4 linked regions of the Homo sapiens genome follow. The protein of the gene in region 1 interacts with the protein of each later gene in a pairwise test. Each region holds a gene or a part of one and is shown in the gene's direction. Other genes may lie near its edges.

Region 1 (2,313 bases):
TGTGCATCTTTAGGCAGGTTACTTGGCTTCTCTGAACCTCAATTTCTTATCCTATTAAATGATAAGAACCTCAGTTTCTTATCCTATACGATGCATGGGTCTCAATGGAAACAGTTCCGCCCCCTTAGGTCGACCTTGGAAATAGGGTAGGAGGGCATTTTTAGTTGTTCCAGTGGCCAGGGGTGCTACTGGCATTTAGTGGCCTGGAGCCAGAGATGCTGCTAAATGCTCAGTGCCCAGAACAGCCACCCCACCTCCAAGAATTGTCCTACCCCAAATGTCAATAGCACCCTGTCAAACAACAATACATGTCACATGTTTAACATACAAGTTCTGCGAGATGTTCAGTGAAGTTTGCGGAAAGGATAGTGAGCTGGGAGATGAGGCTTGGAATCAGAGCAGGGCTTGAGGGGGCTGCAGAGGGGTTGGGCATGGGAACACGAGGTGCTACAGAGACACTGGCACCCGGCTAGGCACACAGAGAAGGCAGTGGGAAACGGGGACGTGCCAGGGGGCCAGGCCATGGAGATGATGCTGCATCCTGGGAGAAAGAGCCAAGTGGGGCTGCTGAGTAACTTGGCTGTGGCTATTGCCTTCCTGTAGGTTGCAAAGCATTTTTCCGGGCAAGGTGGAAGGTGTTGCCAAGCCCTGCCCACTACCCAGCGCTGGCTCAGCTGGCCCAGAGCTGCAAGTCAGCCCTCAGACCCTGGGTGACTCCTGAGCAGGCTGCACCAGCATCCCCCTCCTCCCTCCCAATAAACAGGACAGTCCTTCCTCTCCCGTGTGACATTGCACTGGTTCTCCAGCCCAGGGTCTCTGAGAAATTAGGCAAATTCATTAAAAAGAGTTTTATATTTGCAGAAAGACATTTTCAGCCTGAGTCTGGGGCTCCCAGTGGTTCCCTAAATTTGAGGGATGGAGGAAGACTTCCCTGCCCCACCCCAAGCCTCCCGAGCCTGGTGGATTGGTCCCTGTCCCCAGCCAACCTGGTGGCAGGGTGGGGCTTCCGTGCTAATAACCCCCCTTTTTCCTTCTTGTTAGACCTGCTCCCCTCAAAAGCTTCGTGCCAACAGAGAGGTTCCTGTTTGAACCCAGGAGAGTGGAAGAGAGATTGGGACTGAGTGCTGAGGTTGGGAAGGCACCTGCTCCCACAGAAGGGGGAACGCAAGAGGCATCCCAAGACCTCATCTGCCTGCAGTGTCAAATCGATGGCCTGGCCTTGGCTTCTGATTATTTGCAGCTGCGATGGATGTTTACAGGAACCCAGCCAGAGTTTGCCTCCCTGCACTTCATCCCGGAGCGCACCTGCTTCCCCCACTTCACCTTCGGAGAGGACACTTCAAACTGCGGACACACGCAAAAGCGACTCCCAGCTCCGTTTGATGTGAGTTGAGCCTTCAGGCCAGCTGGGTTTAGCCCGAGGCTGGTCTTAGATGCAGCGACTGTTTCAGGGGTGACTCAGAAGAAAAAGAAGCTGAGGAAGCTGTTGGGGGGCTGAGGGTGGGATTCTCGCTCCTTCATTTCAGGTTACTCGTTCTTCAGCAAGTTGGCAAAACAGACATCATGCTGGTGAGTGCCACGTTACTCCCCTGGCTGGAAATGCTTTTCTGAAAGTATGAGTGTTGTGCCTACTTAATTCTGATAAACCTGTCTAAGCAATACTTAGGAGGCTTACTTCTTTGGATTAAAAAAAAATGTATGCAACTCCAACCCCTGGGGCCCTGCCTTTTTTTTTAACTTTGAGATTCGGGAAAGGAGTTCTAGGCAGAACCTTGTGGCTGACAAACAGCAGAAGATCCAGTGGGGTTGAGAGAGTCTGCCCCAGTCGGGCTGGCGTGAAAGTCCCAGGCTGGCCCCCTGCCCCACTCCACAAGCCAGGGACAGCATTTGGGGTGTGGTGGGAAAAGCCTGAAGGCCAAGCTGGAAACCAGGCCTGAATCCCATAGAAGTGGGGGTGGGTATCCCCTGTGTCAGGCACATGGTAGACCTTCATTAAAGATAGGGGGGAAGGGCTTGGCATGGTGGCTCATGCCTGTAATCCCAGCACTTTGGAAGGCCGAGGCGGGCAGATCACTTGAGGTTAGGAGTTCGAGACCAGCCTGGCCACCACGGTGAAACCCCATCTCTACTAAAAATACAAAAAAATTAGCCAGGCATAGTGGCGCACACTTATAGTCCCAGCTACTCGGGAGGCTGAGGCAGGAGAATTGCTTGAAACCAGGGAGGCAGAGGTTGCAGTGAGTTGAGATCATGCCACTGCATTCCAGCCTGGGCAACAGAGCAAGAGAGGGATTAAATGAGTGGAATTGGGAG
Region 2 (3,649 bases), on another chromosome or scaffold:
GGTTTGGGGAGTCCCCATACCCTGTTAAGGGTACCATGAGATGAAACTATTTTCATAGTAATTCTGAGATGTTATTTTTATTTTTCAGTCTAATTTTCTCAAAACTGGGCAGTGCACTTGGCTAGAGTCTTTAAGGTGTGGGATATGACAACAGATGTGAAAATCCAGCTGTCTTCTATTACAAGACTAAAGTGATTTCCAAAAATTTAAAATAATGCCACTCTTATCACTGAGAAAATAGTTATTTTTCATAAGGATGTTATTTTTATTAATATATAATGTATTATTTTTAAATGAATTTATTTTTAAAGGTTATTCAGTTTTAATTTGTAATATTATAAATATCAACAGCTATAACCTAAACAAGCAAAACTCTTTGGAGTTCTGAAGTTGTAAAATGGTGTCCTGAGAGCAAAAATTTCTGTGGTGGCGTATTTTATAGATTACGTACTTAAAATATCGGGTAGTGGCTCCAATAAGTTGCCATTACCTCTTGCCTAGAAACTGCAGTAGCCTACTGGTCAGTTGCCTGACTTCTATAACTCTCCCACCAGCCATTCCAAGAGTGATCTCTGAAAAACGTTAATCAGAGCATGCCACCCTCTGTGTAAAGCTAATGGCTCCCTGTTGGTCTTAGAATATATAATGGAGTAGCGAGGCCCTGTGTAATACGGTTCCATGCCCTCTCCATTTTTTGCAGATGCCTTCTTTCTTTGCTTGCTTGGCTGACTACATTGACCTTCTAGTTCCCTGACCTGTTAATACTTTTTTTCCTGCCTGAGGACTTCTGTACAGTTTGTTCTTGCTACCTAGAATGCAAGAACACTCTTTGCCCATTCCTTTTCCATCTTTAAATCTTAATGCAAAGGTCAGTTTCTCCAGGTAGTATCTATTTCTGATTGTCCAGACTGGATTGGGATCCCCTGTTGGATTTCTCACAGTAGCCTGTTTTTGATAAGAATTCATCACAACTAAAAATTGTATATTTATGTGATTCCTTCTCTTTAGAGAGGGGCTGTGATTGTTCACCATTGTGTTACCAGAGCCTAGGGCTCAATAAATTATTTACAGATGAATCTAGTCCATTATGTACAATAATACATATTCAGTAATAACTACTTATTGTTGAACCTTTACTGAGTGTAGTATGTACATAATCTGGTAGCTCCCAGTCCTTTTGTGGAAGCTTCCTCTTAAGCTGTTCCCCCCAGGTCACCACTCTCCAGGCACAACTCTTGACTGCTTCATGATGTTCACTCTTGCTTCTCTGCCTGGAACATTACTCTTCTAGAACCACCTTTCTTAGCTGGAGATTCTCATCTGAACCACAGAGCACAGAAAGTGATATGAATAGCTATCCATTTCTTTTCAAAGATGGTTCATAATGAATATAATTTTAGATGTATAGGAGAGAAGTTAATTCATTACATAGTGAGTGGTTTGTTGGTAAATGCTGGTTTATCAACCCGTTCTTCAGGAAAAACACTGATTTGTAGTGTTTGCTGGATTTCCATGATGTAAATATTCTCACTGTGGCAGATTTCAAGATACCGTTATTAAACTGGCTCACAAAATTTATGAAAATTTAAGAGCCATTGCTTATAATGGGTGCCTTAGGGCAGAGGCCAGCAAACTGGTAGTCGAAATCTATTGTGCCCATTTGCTTATGTGTTATCTATAGCTCCTTTCAGAATAGACCATGTGGCTGGTAGAGCCAAAAATATTTACTGTCTAGCCCGTAACAGAAAGTTTGCTTACCCTGGTATTAGGGCTTCCTGTTAATATATCTTGTTCATCAAAACACTTCTCATTGGAAATTTTTACCATGACTTATTTTTTATAGAAATACAATGTGAGCTGGGCTCAGTGGTTCATGCTTGTAATCCCAACACTTTGCGGGGCCAAGGTGGCAGGATTGCTTGAGCACCATGGCTCAGTGATCATGGCTCACTGCAGCCCCCACCTCCTGGAGTTCGAGACCAGCCTGTCTACAAAAAAATAAAAATTTAGCTAGGTGTGGTGGCACACACCTGTAGTCCCAGCTAGTCCAGCAAGGTTGAGCCCAGGAGTTTGGAGGTTACACTGAGCTATGATTGCACCGCAGCATTCCAGCTGTGGTGACAGAATGAGACTTGGTCTCTTAAAAACAAAAAACAGTATGAGCCACATATGTAATTTTCCTATTAGCCACTTTAATCAAAAGGAAGGACTGAAGTCAATTTTTCAATAGTGGTGACTCACACATAACAAAATTTATCATGTTAACCATTTTTAAGGGTTCACTTCAGTGACATTAAGTACATTCACATTGTTGTACAATTGTTACCACCATCCGTTTCCAGAACTCATCTTGCAAAACTGAAACCCTGGACCGTTTAAACAGTAACTCCCCATTTTCCCCATTCCCCCACCTCTAGCAACCACCATTCTTCTTTCTGTCTCTGAATTTGACTACTCTAGGTATTTCATATAAGTGGAATAAGACAGTGTTTGGCCTTTTGTGATTAACTTATTTCCCTTAGTATAACGTCCACAAGGTTCATTTATGTTGTAGCATGTGTCAGAATTTACTTTTTTTTTTTTTTTTGAGACAGGTCTCACTTTGTCACCCAGGCTGGAGTGCAGTGGCACAATCATGGCTTGCTGCAGCCTCCACCTCCTGAAGTTCAAGTGATCCTCCTGCCTTAGCCCCCCAAGTAGCTGGGACTGCAAGCTCACATCACCATGCTTGGCTACTTTGTATTTTTTTGTAGAGACAGGGTTTCACCATGTTGCCCAGGTTGGTCTCAAACTCCTGAGCTCAAGCGATCTGCCCCCTTGGTCTCCCAAAATGCTAGGATTATACAAGTGTGAGCCACCGCACCCAGCCAGAATTTACTGTGTATGACTGAATAATATTCCATTATATGTATGTACCACATTTTAAAAATCCATTGATCTGTTGCTGGTCGCTTGGGTTGCTTCCACCTTTTGGCTATTGTAATTTTAATATGCTTTATTTAACCCAGTATGTCTAAAATATTTTAAGGTGCAATTGATATAAAGACTATAAAATATCTTGCATTTTGAAATACTAAGTCTTTGAAATATATTTTGTAATTTACACTTAAGCATACCTCAGTTTGAAGTAGCCACATTTCAGGTGCTTAATAGCCATATGTAGCTAGTGACTGCTGAATTAGCACAGCTAATAAAGCTTTCAGGATGTGCTTCCACCTGCCTTTTCTCCTGTTTTCATTGCATTTCAGCCAGTTTGTATTGTCTCTTCCCCTACCCTCAAATATCACTGGCTCTTTCTTCCCCTTTTTGAACCTTTGCAAATGCTGTTAATGACAATGACATAATGGCCAATATTTATTGCAGGCATGATTTATAAGGCATGATGCATTATATTTTTTTAAAATGTCACATAACTTTATGATGAAAGCACTATTATTATCCTTTTTTTAAAAAATGAAGATGCTGGCCAGGCATGGTGGCTCATGCTGCTAATCCCGGCACTCTGGGAGGCCGAGGCGGGTGGATCACATGAGGTCAGGAGTTTGAGACCAGCCTGACCAACATGGAGAAACCCCGTCTCTACTAAAGATACAAGATTTGCCAGGTGTGGTGGTGCATGCCTGTAATCCCCAGCTACTCGGAAGGCTGA
Region 3 (3,649 bases), on another chromosome or scaffold:
CGCTGCTTTGGTGAGACACCCCCATGCAAGGTCCTCAGAGTAGCCGGGTTCTACCACAAACAGAAACAGAATGAAAGTAGCTGTCAGTCCTTGTAGAGAGCCGCTCTGTTTCCTCCCAGAAGCATCTCCCAGCTAAGCTCGCATTATTTTTCTCCTCTGGCTGTTTGCCTGAAGTTCACAGAACACACAACCATGAAAGGCTTTTTGAGGTGAGAGGCCCAGGTGGTCCTGGCAACCCTGAGTAGAAGGAGAGACGGGGTAGGGAACGGGCCCGGCCAGAAAAGAACCATTTCTTCTGCCATCTTTTATGCACCATAGACATCGAGACTCCAGGGGGTCCTGGCTCCCCTGTCCCTGCAGCCCTGCAGGTCAGTGCATGATCTGGGTTCGTGTCCTGACCAGGTGCTCCTCCTTTGATCCGAGGGGAAAGGGACTGGTTTATAGAAAGAGCCTAGGAGACAAAAGGGCCAGTCCCCCTGCCCAGAATGGAGCAGCAGCAGGACAGACCCCCACGAGGCCCCCCAGAGAGGAGGAAGATCCCACGGAGGAACACATGAGGTTAGGGACCCTTGTTCAGCACCCCAAACAGCCTGCCTGTTTAAAGCAGGCAGCAGGCTTAGGCCTTCCCTGCAACCCCAACACCCACAAGTTTGTTTCTCTAGGAAACACATTCACTGTCTCAGCTGGCTGTTACTCTCTCAGACCATATGGCAAAGTTTTCCAAGAAAATGCCCCGACAGGGGTGCCCAGCACACTGCCTGAGGGACAACAGACATCAGAACAAACCCCCAGAGAGAAACAGTCAAAATCAGGGCCCGGTGCAGTGTTGTCATGTGGAACCTGCTTTATCCATTGCTGAGTGTTGAATGTGGGTAATGGTTAGGGCTTTCCAGATCTCAGCAGCCAAAGACAGTTATTGTTGGAAGACTGTCATGTAGATAACCATGAGCAATGGCTCGCCTCAGAATCAGTTCATAAAATTCTATGGTACTGGCCCCTTCGTGGGTATTGTGTGAAATGAGATGGTGGCGAGGGGTGCGCTGTGGAACTGCCGCAGCCACGCAGGAGGTCCCTGGGGGATGCTTTGGGAAGTCCTTGCCCCTGAGCACTGCCTGATTGCCAGGGCCTGTGGAGGTCTAGGCCGCCTGGCAGAATCTAGCACCGTCCGAATCCCCGCAGGACCCATGGAGCTATGACCACACCAGGCCATTCAAATGGCTCTGCATTATCTTCCCTTGGAAGGTGGCCACTCCTCGGTGGCAGGGCCTTTCCCTGAGGCTGCAGGCCGTGGGCTGGCAGCCCGTCTCTTGGCATTTCAATTGAAGGTCACCAGGTGCTGGGTTTGAAAGGAAGTCACTGGAGTGCTGCCAGGGGCCGCCCTCCAAGGTTAATGAGAGGCCCACATCCAGGCAAGAACTAATTCAAAAGGCAGATCAGAAACCACAGGAGTCAAAATTATTGCTCCGGCAGTGCTTCCCTTCCTTTCATCCACTGGCCTCGTGTGGTCCATGCAGGGCCACTGTCTGCCCTTTCTGATGCCACGTATTAGGCTTTCTTACTCAGAATTTTGATAGAAAACCATGGGGCCAAGAGCTCTGGAAGCCTGGCCGGAAAGACCAAGGTTCATGCAGCCCAACAAATGATTGTTGAGCACCTCTCGGAGCCAAAGTCCTTAGGCGAGTGTGGTGACTTCCTGGAAGGAGGATGCAGACTTCCAGAGAGCCCCCCCAACGGACGTGCTGAGAAGGGAGAGGGAGGCGGGGGCTGTAGTCAGGAAGGAGCCAGAGAAGAACAGGGTTTGGGTGCATCCAGAAATATGCCTGCAGTAGGAGGGAGAGGAAGGGGTGCCACCGTCAACGGCTTCCCATCGGAGGTGGTTGGTGCAGATGGAAGTTTCTGTCTGCTGGCCCTCAAGAGAGTGTTTTGCCAGGGACACAGTCTGTTCCTCCTCAGAAAACACCCCCCAAATGCTAACAACATCCCCACCAGCTGCTAGAAGCCCCTTTCCCCTCCCCACCTTGAAGTAGCTCATAGTTCTCTGGGCAGAGCCAGACCATCCAGTGTACCCCAGAGGCCAGTAGGTTCCTGCCCATTTTCCTCTCTGGCTTCCTGCCAAGAATTATGGCAGCTGAGGATGAATGGAGAAGTAAAAACAACTAACACCGCACAACTAACAACTAACACCGCAGTTCCCACCTGGGTTCCACTTAGCAGGAGACATTTCGGAGGGTTTTTTTTGTTTTTGTTCCTGTTTTTTTTTTTTTTGCTGGAATTTGTTTTCTCAGTACTGAAAAGAGAAAAAGTGACAATCTTGTATTTTTAAAAGCCTCGGAAAGGTGATACCATCTGACAGTCATTTTCTCACGTTGGTCTTCTAAAGTCACCTATTTCTTGTGTGTGCACATCACACCATTTCCTGTTTCTTTATAACCCGACAAGGGTAGGAGTGCCTGTTTCCCCTGCTGGGCACACCAGACAATCGTAATCACAAAACAGACACTGAGCCAGGGGCCCAAAGGGTGTGATCATGAGAGTTACCGGGACAGCAGTAGGCATGACAGTCACCAGGAAGGACAAGGGTGCTCTGTTGTTAGTGGCCACACACCAATTTGACAAGGAGTGTTGCGAAATTTTTATTTATTTATTTATTTATTTTGAGATGGAGTTTCACTCTTGTTGCCCAGGCTGGAGTGCGGTGGTACAATCTCGGCTCACTGCAACCTCCACCTCCCAGGTTCAAGCGATTCTCCTGCCTCAGCCTCCCAAGTACCTGGGACTACAGGTGCGTGCCACCACACCCAGCTAAATTTTGTGTTTTTAGTAGAGATGGGGTTTCACCATGTTGGCCAGGATGGTCTTGAACCCCTGACCTCATGATCTGCCTGCCTCGGCCTCCCAAAGTGCTGGGATTACAGGCATGAGCCACCACGCCCAGCCAAAATATTTTTTTAAAGTCATTTTCCTTAAGCTGCTTGGGCTACATGTGAAATACACTGGACGGTCAACATTCCTGTCTCCTCCCATTTGGGCTGATGCAGCAGATCCAGGGAATGTTACCTGTTTCTGCTGCTAGAAGATCCAGGAAATTGGGAAGGTTACCTGACGCACACATGGATGAAGGCCATCATCTAGAAATGGGGTCAACCACAATTGTGTTAATTCCGTAGTGTCAGGGATTCTTCGGGAAGGTCAACAGTATGAAGGATTCTGACCCCTGTGCCTCCCATTTATGTGATCAGGTGACAGTTAATAACCGTGGAGGTCACACTCAGCCATCCAACAGCCTTACAGTGACCCTACACAAAAGCCCCCAAATTCCAAAGACTTTTTCTTAACCTAAAGGAAGAAATTATTTGTTAATTCCAGTAGAGCAACTGAATATACTGGGCTATTTGTACTTTTTTATAGAGAACTTTAATAATAATTCTTTAAAAATGAGTTTTTAGAACAAAGCAACTGACGATTTCCTAAGATTCCAATGCCCTGGAGCTTGTAGGAGGACTTAGCCTGGGTCAGCTGGAGCACCCCCGACCTGATCTCCCACTGCCAGATTTTCCCATGCTCCTAGGGTATGGAGTCCACGTGGGAATGACTGCAAGTTCAGGTGGAACTTGGCCGACTGATGCTCTGCGAGTTTTTAATAGACACT
Region 4 (3,649 bases), on another chromosome or scaffold:
CCGTCTCAAAAAAAATGATTTAAAAATTAAAAAAAAAATTTTTTTTTTTTTTAGATGGAGTCTTGCTCTGTCGCCCAGGCTGGAGTGCAGTGGCGTGATCTCAGCTCACTGCAAGCTCCGCCTTCCGGGTTCACGCCATTCTCCTGCCTCAGCCTCCCGAGAAGCTGGGACTACAGTCGCCCACCACCACGCCTGACTACTTTTTTGTATTTTTAGTAGAGACAGGGTTTCACCATGTTAGCCAGGATGGTCTCTATCTCCTGACCTCATGATCCGTCTGCCTCAGCCTCCCAAAGTGCTGGGATTACAGGCGTGAGCCACCGCGCCCAGCCTAAATTATTTTTTAAAAAATTAGCCGGGCATGGTAGATGCATGCCTGTAGTCCCAGCTACTTGAGAGGCAGAGGCAGAAAGATCACTTGAGCCCAGTAGTTCAAGGCTGCAGTGAGCTATGATCACACCACTACACTCTAGCCTGGGGTGACAGAGCATGACTCTTATCTCTAAAACAAGAGGAGGACAACAAAAGAGTGGGGTATAGCATGGTAAACTGGTATATATAAACACGTGAACTAATAAACCTAGTGATCAGAATACATAATTAACAGAACAGAGGAGAAAAGCATCAGTGAAATAATTCAGAAAGTGTCCCATAATTGAAGGATCTTTGTTTCTGAATTGAAAGGGCCAGTTAGGTCCCAACATAATGAAGGATAAAGGTAGGTTCCCATTAAGAGACATTATCATAAAATGTCAGAACACTGAGGGAAAAAAAAATCCTAAAAGCTTCTAGAGAAGAGAAATAGAACACGTTAAAAAATAGACTTGAAATGACTTCAGCCTTCCCTGAAAGTAGCACTAGAAGCTAGATAGCAATTGGAGAATCTGTTCAGAATTCTAAGGGAAAATTATTTCCAACCTGGAATTTTAAACTCGGGCAAACTATCAATTTGGTGTTACAGTAGGCTAAATACATTTTTTTAGACATGCAGTACCTCAGAGTTTTTCATCATTCCCCTTCTCAGAAAGTTTCTGGAAATATTTGCAAAAATGAGAGGGAAAGGCAGGAAAGGGGAAGACAGGTGACAGTGCAGTGAAAGAGGCTTCCAGGCTGACAGCTGTGTACTAGGCATAGAGAAGAGCCACTGCAGGAGCAGGTCAGATGCTGTAGGAGCGACTTCTTCAGGAAAATTGGTTTAACAGAAAACCTGAGGTGCCTGAATACATTCAGAGGAGATCGAGACTACTGGGGAGATCATAGGATGAATTTGTACTGATAACATTGAAAAACTAAACAAAGGAATAGACAGTTGTTTAGTTGCATTGCTGTATCATGTATGTTTTAATTATTAACAAAATTTTGAATCTAACAATAGCGTTTAGATTTGATAATGCTGGGTGGTACATGAGTGTTCATATCTTTTTTACACGTTTGAAATGTTTCATAAAAATATTTTCAAATAATCACAAATAATATATCACTCCCCTGCTTAACTCTATAATATAGTCCCTCTGCTGTTTGGATTTTATTCTGACTCTTAACCTTAGGTTATATATTTGGCCCTTTCCTGTCTCCCTCCAAAGTCATTCCAACCACACTGATATTTTTCAGTTCCTGGATCCAGTTCAACCAGTGTTTTCCAGCCTGCCTCTGGAGACTTGCACATGCTGTGCCTTCTTCTTGGCATCCTTCCACTTTTCTTTGTGTGGCTATCTTCTTTAACCTTGAGCTTTCAGCTGTAAAGTCACCTCCTCAGAGAGACCTTCCCTGACCACTTTAAAACTAGGTCATTTTACTCCCTTAATTCTCTCATTGAGCACCATGTTTGTGTTCTTTATAGCATTTATGACAACTTTTGTTGACTTGTTTTTCTTTTTTTCTATTATATAAGCTCCTTCATGAGGGCAAGGATCTTATCTGTCTCTTTGTCTTGCTAACCATTGTATCACCAGTTTACCCAATGCCTGGCACATAGTAATCACTTAGGCCAGGTGCAGTGGCTGATGCCTGTAATCCCAGCACTTTGGGAGGCCAAGGCGGGCAGATCACTTGAGGTCAGGAGTTCGAGACCAGCCTAGCCAACATGGTGAAACCCTGTCTCTACTAATAAAGTATAAAAAATTAGCCAGGCGTGGTGGCACATGCCTGTAGTGCTAGCTACTCAGGAGGCTGAGATGGGAGAATTGGTTGAACCCAGGAGGCAGAGGTTGCAGTGAGCCGAGATTGCACCATTGCACTCCAGCCTGGGCGACAGAAGGAGACTTCGTCTCAAAAAAAAAAAAAAAGCCAAGCGCAGTGGCTCACGCCTGTAATCCCAGCACTTTGGGAGGCCGAGACAGGTGGATTACGAGGTCAGGAATTCAAGATCAGCCTGGCCAAGATGTTGAAACCCCGTCTCTACTAAAAATACAAAAATTAGCCATGTGCGGTGGCAGGCGCCTGTAATCCCAGCTACTCCAGAGGCTGAGGCAGGAGAATCACTTGAACCCGCGAGGTGGAGGTTGCAGTGAGCCAAGATCCCACCACTGCACTCCGGCCTAGGCAATAGAGTGAGACTCCGCCTCAAAAAAAAAAAAAAAAGTAACCACTTAAATTTTGTGGAATGAATGAATGATAGTATAGCTACTGTAAAGGTTTCATGTGGTAATAATGACACCTGAGTTCAAATTCCAGCCCTGCCCCTACTGAGCTGATCTTTTTTGATCAGCTGTAAACAGAGGATATTAACATAAACACCCCCATGTCCCCAGTGGGGTTTTAAGGGACCTAACAAAGTTGTTTCTTGATCTGGTGCAGGTTACATGGTATGCTGAGTTTGTAAAATTCATTGATCTGTATAGACTTACGTGTACTTTCCTCTGTGTATATTACGTTTCAATAATCTTTTATTTCCCCCTACCCACTAGACCACCAGGGAAATAATCTCTTTTTTTTTTTTGCTATGGAGTCTTGCTCCCAAAGTGCTGGGATTACCGACATGGGAAATAATCTTTTTTAAAGTTAGAAAAAAAAGCTAGACATGGTGGCTCACACCTGTAATCCCAGCACTTTGGGAGGCCGTGGTGGGGGGATGGCTTGAGTTCAGTAGTTCCAGACTTGCCTGGGCAATGTGATGAGACCTTGTCTCTACAAAAAAAGTTTTAAAAATTAGCTGGGCATGTGGCATGCAGCTGTGGTCCCAGCTACTTAGGAGACTGAGGCAGGAGGATCACTTGAGCCCAGGAGGTCAAGGCTGCAGTGAGCTGTGTTTGTGCCGCTGCACTATGGTCTGGGTGACAGAGCAAGACCATGACTCAAAAAAAAAAAAAATGGGAGGTCGAAGCAGGTGGATCACCTGAGGTCAGGAGTTCAAGACCAGCCTGGCCAACATGGTAAAACCCTGTCTCCAATACAAAAATTAGCAGGGTATGATGGCATGCACCTATAATCCCAGCTACTTGGGAGGCTGAGGCAGGAGAATCGCTTGAACCCAGGAAGCGGAGGTTGGGCGACAAAGCGAGACTGTGTCTCAAAAAGAAAAAACACCACCTGTATTAGGGCAGCTTTAAGGATAGAATATGTATATATAAGGCATTCACACAATGCCAAACACAAAAGTATATGCTTAGTAACTAGAAGCTGCTCTTACCATCTTTATCTGGAGAGAGGA

What was found.
Region 2: the proteins of DEXI (region 1) and UBQLN1 interact in binary tests that used the Homo sapiens proteins (3 or more experiments, as listed by UniProt).
Region 3: the proteins of DEXI (region 1) and PRKCA interact in binary tests that used the Homo sapiens proteins (3 or more experiments, as listed by UniProt).
Region 4: the proteins of DEXI (region 1) and SETDB1 interact in binary tests that used the Homo sapiens proteins (3 or more experiments, as listed by UniProt).

What each region holds. Positions count from the first base shown.
Region 1 is NC_000016.10:10,928,288-10,930,600, reverse strand, and holds the end of DEXI (dexamethasone-induced protein), read left to right. Parts: exon of another isoform or gene 1-1,041; 3' UTR 1,042-1,710; downstream 1,711-2,313.
Region 2 is NC_000009.12:83,697,851-83,701,499, reverse strand, and holds part of UBQLN1 (ubiquilin-1), read left to right. Parts: intron 1-3,649. UniProt on the Homo sapiens protein: Plays an important role in the regulation of different protein degradation mechanisms and pathways including ubiquitin-proteasome system (UPS), autophagy and endoplasmic reticulum-associated protein degradation (ERAD) pathway.
Region 3 is NC_000017.11:66,806,072-66,809,720, forward strand, and holds part of PRKCA (protein kinase C alpha type), read left to right. Parts: 3' UTR 1-3,649. UniProt on the Homo sapiens protein: Calcium-activated, phospholipid- and diacylglycerol (DAG)-dependent serine/threonine-protein kinase that is involved in positive and negative regulation of cell proliferation, apoptosis, differentiation, migration and adhesion, tumorigenesis, cardiac hypertrophy, angiogenesis, platelet function and inflammation, by directly phosphorylating targets such as RAF1, BCL2, CSPG4, TNNT2/CTNT, or activating signaling cascade involving MAPK1/3 (ERK1/2) and RAP1GAP.
Region 4 is NC_000001.11:150,953,822-150,957,470, forward strand, and holds part of SETDB1 (histone-lysine N-methyltransferase SETDB1), read left to right. Parts: intron 1-3,649. UniProt on the Homo sapiens protein: Histone methyltransferase that specifically trimethylates 'Lys-9' of histone H3. H3 'Lys-9' trimethylation represents a specific tag for epigenetic transcriptional repression by recruiting HP1 (CBX1, CBX3 and/or CBX5) proteins to methylated histones.